Linked DNA regions of Homo sapiens: region 2 is linked to region 1. Evidence: fine-mapped expression QTL. A gene starts in region 1. The other region holds a variant in brackets. All regions are shown on one strand. Distances are from middle to middle.

What was found. PIP is the estimated chance that this variant, and not a neighbour inherited with it, causes the effect.
Region 2: its variant is the best candidate, but not a certain one, in a credible set for the expression of EREG in whole blood (INTERVAL, PIP 0.84).

What each region holds. Positions count from the first base shown.
Region 1 is chr4:74,363,679-74,366,597 of GRCh38, reverse strand. EREG (epiregulin) reads right to left here and starts at 1,453. Exons shown (of 5, transcript NM_001432.3): 1 at 1,223-1,453. The coding sequence starts at 1,289. LOC105377276 (a long non-coding RNA gene) reads left to right here and starts at 1,257. Exons shown (of 3, transcript NR_188415.1): 1 at 1,257-1,447.
Region 2 is chr4:74,334,809-74,337,727 of GRCh38, reverse strand. The region is part of intron 1 of LOC105377276 (a long non-coding RNA gene); the gene reads left to right. Among named protein-coding and RNA genes, the nearest start is that of EPGN, 28 kb to the right of the region's middle. The variant A/G (reference allele first, on the strand shown) is at 1,772.

The sequences.
Region 1 (2,919 bases):
ATTTCTAACTCTAGGAAGACTGTCACCTTTCTAATTTAATTCTTTTCAAAACAAAGACAGCAAAGCCACATTGTTTACTGAGAATCTTCTAGCAAGTCTTTCTTAGCTCAGTTTTGGCAGAAACCACATATCTAGTTTCCACTTGTGTTCCTGGACTTAGACTTGTAAGTTTCAATTATGCATAGTATGCATTTCATTAGGTCTCTCAACCCCTGAGATAAGGTGTGCCAAAATAATAATTTAACAGTCACATCCTTCACAGGTAGAGTTAGAGTGTCTGGGGAATCAGCCTCATTCCAACTCCAGGGAGAATATGAGACTGGTGGTAACTTTTATTTTTTTATTAAGATATTCATATACGACTTCAAACTCTTTCAAATTCCTTAAACTGAAGTTTAAGGAATTGGAAAGAAGTAATTTTTTTTTAACAGAAAGGCTATTTAGAAAATTTTTCCCCTTGAACTAAATCATCTCAAATAGGAAGACTGGCATTTAAATACCCTCAGCGATCACAGGCTATGGAGTGCAATTAGCAGCAAGTGCAGAACGCTTGCTCCAGAGGCTGCTTGGGAGGCTGCAGGGAAAAACGCAAGCAGCAGGTGTAGGGGCGAAGGGCGGTGGGGAGCGCCAGGACCTGCCCAGGGCCCTTCTGCTCCAGATACCCTCGACCAGTGTTTTATTTCTCTTGTGTCTGGAGCTCAGCCAACTGGCACTGGCGCATACCAGCTCCTCCGGGAAAGCTAAACCAGGCTAGGTTTTAGAAAACTGAGCGCAAGACAGAGGAGAAAAGCTTTTTCCCCCCTCCAAAAAATTTCTTACGCTAGTTTCTATTCCCCACTCTCCAACAAAAAGGAACAAGACATGAAATGTTAACAGTGCGTTCCAGGCCTTTAGATTTCTAGGACTGGCAACTTTTCAAAAAAAAAAAAAAAGCTTTTTCAACAACTTTTTATTTTGTTTAATAAGGAGATATTTCAATCCATGCATAACATATATGCCAATAATTAATTCACCAATAAAAAGCATTTTAACATCGATCCCCAGTCCCCCCCACCCCAGTCCCACCATAGGGGAAGACAGACTCACAAAACAAGACGTAATTTTAAATAGAGCACACTTGAACCTGGAGACAACTCCGTACTTGTCGAATGACAAATGCACAGGAGCCTTCCTTATTTGTCTCCTCTTTGGGGCGGCCGGAAGCCAGAGGGGGAGAACTTACCCAGGCAGAGCAGCAGCGCAGGGACCCTGCCGGCACAGAGCATCTCCATCCTCCTCCCCGCGGTCATCGGCGATGGGAGCGGGCGCTGGGGCTTGGCGGAGGGCGGCTGCGGAGAGTGCACGGGCAGGGCGGGAGCAGACGGGCTCGCGGCAGTGGCTGGAGAGCGGCTGTCAGCCTAGAAGGGACCCCACGTTGGCTGTGTCCCTCTGACACTGGAAATATCAGGCAAGTGAGCTCAACTGTCTGGTGCTGCGAACTTTATACTAGGGAGCCCCTCCCGGGCCCTAACGGGGTGAGGTCAAGAGTGCCCAGAGTTTCATAATTGGCCCGAGGGAGGAGCGGCAGGAGGACCGTCAGGAAGTCATCCTCCCTCCCTGGAGCACCTGAGAGTAGTGGTTGAGGAATGAAAAAATGTCTTTCCGATTGGCCGGGGACTACTCCCGAAACTTTTCCATCTCCCTCCGGGAGGTGGGGAGCGTGGACCAGATGGCTTGGTTTGCTTTGTGGGGTCACCTGCCCTGTAGTGGGTGGTTTTGGTTGCTCAGGGTGACGGACATAACTTGAATCAGTCTTTTAGCCAAGGCTGGCGTTCCCCATACATGCCTTTGGAGAGCTGTGCGTGTGACTTACTAACCTCAGCCACGAAAACTCCCTTAACTTGAAGTCTGTCAGTGATTCAAGCGCCCTCCTTGCATTGAAACGCCACCGCCCAGAAAAGCCTTTCCCATCTGCGCCTTCCTTCTGAGACCCCTGCTTCCAATGTGGCTCAGGCATTTATTACCTCAAAGTCGAGTCATTGTGAAGAAAATTCCTGTTATTTTTTTTCCTTCTGTCGTATTTGCCATTTGTCAGGTTGCTGCTTTTGATATGACTTCCTACTAAGTAGTGCCTTAATCCTGTCGCTCCCCTGCACAAAACCTTTCAACGACTTCCTATTGCTTTTTGGACAAGGCCTGCCACAAACGTGAAGCCAATCGGTCTTTTCAACCTCAGCTCCCACTATTTCCCCAGGCAAATTGTCTGACCCCAGCCAGGCTGGAAAACTCTAAGCCTTTCCTCACTCCCACTTTCCTGCCTATGCTGATGGAGTCGTACTTTGAGGCAATGGCTACTTTTTAAAGGAATTAGTGAAATCCTGCTCAAATTCATGGTTCTCCTCAAGGGCCTGGGCTTCTTAGGCTTGTGGATCTCTTTTCATTCTGATCTCTTATAGCTTTTGTCGTTTATCTTCTCCCTAGCCTCATAGAATTCTAGACCCGGTACTTTACACCTGGGAAAGCTACTTTGTATTCCTTGACTTTTTTTTTGTTTGTAAGTCCTATGTTCAGCTCTGTACTGTGTAAATTGTCTTCCTTTTCACTGCACTCCTCTATAGGACCTAAGAACTGTGAGTCAATTCAGCAGTACTGTATGTAAATATACATATTTGAATAGAAAATGGAATCTAATGGATGTTAACTCCTTACCTTTTTATTTCTACTTTTTAAAAAATTATTATTACTATTCCTTTTTTTTTTCTGGCTTTTTTCTCTCATACTCTAAGGCCCTTTAATGTCCAGAATGCTCTTGTTAGAAACAAATACTTCGGCCGGGCGCGGTGGCTCACGCCTGTAATCCCAGCACTTTGGGAGGCCGAGACGAGCGGATCACGAGGTCAGGAGATCGAGACCATCCTGGATAACACAGTGAAACCCCGT
Region 2 (2,919 bases), 29 kb after region 1:
TGTTATGGCAGCTCAAACAACCTAATATAGATTTGATCTTTACAACCCCTTAGGAGGAAAGTAAGACTATTATTCCTTTCTTTTTTCTGAAACAGTCTTGCTCTGTTGCCCAGGCTGTGAGTGCAGTGGCACAATCTTGGCTTGGTGCAACCTCCACCTCTTGGACTCAAGAGATTCTCCTGCCTCAGCCACCTGAGTAGCTGGGATTAGAGGCATGCACCACCACGCCTGGCTAATTTTTTGTATTTTTAGTAGAGATGGAGTTTCACCATGTTGGCCAAGCTGTTCTCAAACTCCTGGGGTCGAGTGATCCTCTTGCCTTGGCCTCCCAAAGTGCTGGGATTATAGGCATGAGCCACCATGTCCAGCCGACTATGTGTATCATGTTGAAGATATGAAAGCATATTTTATAAGGATAAGTTCCTAGAACCAAGGTTGCTGACTCAAAGATGTATTGCTTCTTATATTTAAAATGTGATAATGTTTCCATTTCTTTATCAACCCGAGGGCTACACCATTAAACAGAAGTAAAGCATCATTTATATAAAGAAAATTGGTCCTTTGCTTTAGGGATGTCTTGCCAGTATTTTGTTTGGACTTTGATTTTCTTATGATACTTTTTTGACACCTCTAACGTGTTGTGTGGTTGAATTTATTTGTCTTTTATTTTACAATTTCTGTTTCCTTGTCCACACTCAAGAAGGCTTTCACTTAAATATTATAAAAAAAATTCCCTTGCCTTCTCTAGTACTTTCATAGCTTCATTTTTATGTTTAAATACTTGATTCATCTAAAATTTGTTTTAGTGCAAAGAGTAAGTAAGCAGCTTATTTTTTATATGTCTATCTCAATTTCTCAACATCATTTATGGAATGATCTATGTTCTTATGCACTGATCTGTAATGTTATCTTAGTGTTAAGACTCTACTCTATTGCTTCTTATCTTTTGATTCTGTTTTGCTTTATTGATGCAGCCAGTCTGTTTCACAAATTGACCAGGTGTTGTTTTGTTAATGTTGTATAAAATCTCAAGGCTTTCCTTAGAGAGAATTTACATTATCATGATGCTGAGTGTTTCTATGCAAGAGTGGGTATATTTTCCAATAGATTCAAATGCTCTTTTATCTCCCATAATAGCATTTTAACATTTTGTTCATAGGGCTCTTACACATTTCTTATTAAATTTATTGAAAGATATTAAAAATCATTCTGTGATTACTGTTTTCCATTTTATATTCTAATTGGTTATTGATTCTATATAGGAATGCCATTAAATTGTATATATAAATTTTTTTCAGCCATCTTACTGAAATATCTTTCTGATTGTAATAGTAAGAATAGTAGGAATTGTCTTATTTGTTCTGACAGGAGACTTGAGGCAATGTTAATATCCATAAACTAAATACTGGTTAATCAACATGGTGCATCAAACAAGGCAGTACTCTACAACTCTGGAATAAATGACACAGCCTTGAATACACTGGCACTGAAAAATCTACAAATACATAATATTAGGTTAAAAAAGCCCAAAACTAATGTTTCCAGTATGGTATGACAGCCCCTTGTTCAAAGCAGCTGTCACCTAGGAGGTCTCAAAGGCACTAGGCATGCAATATCATTTTCATTGTGCTTGGAGACCACAATGCTCAGGAATCGTAGAAAAGACAAATGATATTATCAAAAGGCACCTCAGAAAACTGTCTAAAGAGATTCATCTCCCCCTGGATTACTCTTCTTTCCATGGCACTAGTATGTGTTAGAAACAGCTTTC[A/G]AAGCTGGGTTTAAGTTCCTTCAAAACGATGTATAGATGGCCTTTTCTCACCAGTGGTTTCTTGCTAAACCAACAAACCCCTGATTTGATTAGACATGTAACTTCTTTGGCCCATTTCCAATAGGAACTGAAACAACTGTCGGAGGACCAATCCCGTGAAGTAGAACCACCTCTATTCAACCCAGGAGACCTAGTACTGGTAAAGGCTCTTCTTTCCTTTTCTCTCTCTGTGGCCTAGATTGGGAGGGGCCTTCAACTGTAATTCTTTCTACTCCTACATCAGTAAAGTTCACTGGAATAGATTCTTGGATTAATTATACTCGAGTAAAGTCTGGGAAACTGATGAAATTACCTCTGTTGACCCAGAAGAGCACCCAAAGCAACAGTGTGAAGAAACAAAACTTAAGTGTCAATAATTAACCTTCAATGGATATCCTCTTTATAATCTCACCTATGCTTGCTGTACTCGCCTTTGTTCTGTTCCTCACCATAAGGCATCTTTGCCAAGACTCCTTATTACTGAATGTCCCTGGGATTATCTACTCTCCTAAACAGCTATCTCTCTTCTAAAGTTTAATTGCCTTCCCCCATACAAGATTTAATTTCCTTCACTGGGGTGAAATATCTGTGGCCACAACATTGTTTTCAGAATGATTAGTCTATTTTACTTCTTATTTCTGTTATCGTTGGCAATAGAGATTTTCCTTTTAGCTCCTCTTTGTATACTACACATATTTGGTCCACGCATATTTAACCTCCTTGTAAAATTTGTTTATTCTCACCTAGAGACCATCAAACTCCAAATGGTCATGCAAATGGAGCCACGGGCAATGGGTCCCATTTCCTGGTCCCATTACCCGGGAAACACTTTGATAGGCCTCTGAGAGATCTGACTGCCGTTTTCCCAAAACAGTGCACCCTGTTAGCATGAAGCAGTTAAGAGCGGTTACTGTTTGTATCCTAACAGCAGTTAGATGTACCTCTTCAGAGGAGGGATTGATAGCAAAAGGAGGCAGACAGATTCCTAGGCAGATAGGGACAGGTCCCCGGTGAAAGCCGACCTTCAAGCCAAAGACAGCCTGAAGCCTGAAAACCCAGCAGACAGTTCTGGATAGCGTCCAAGACCAGAGTGAGAATACCCTCAGCGC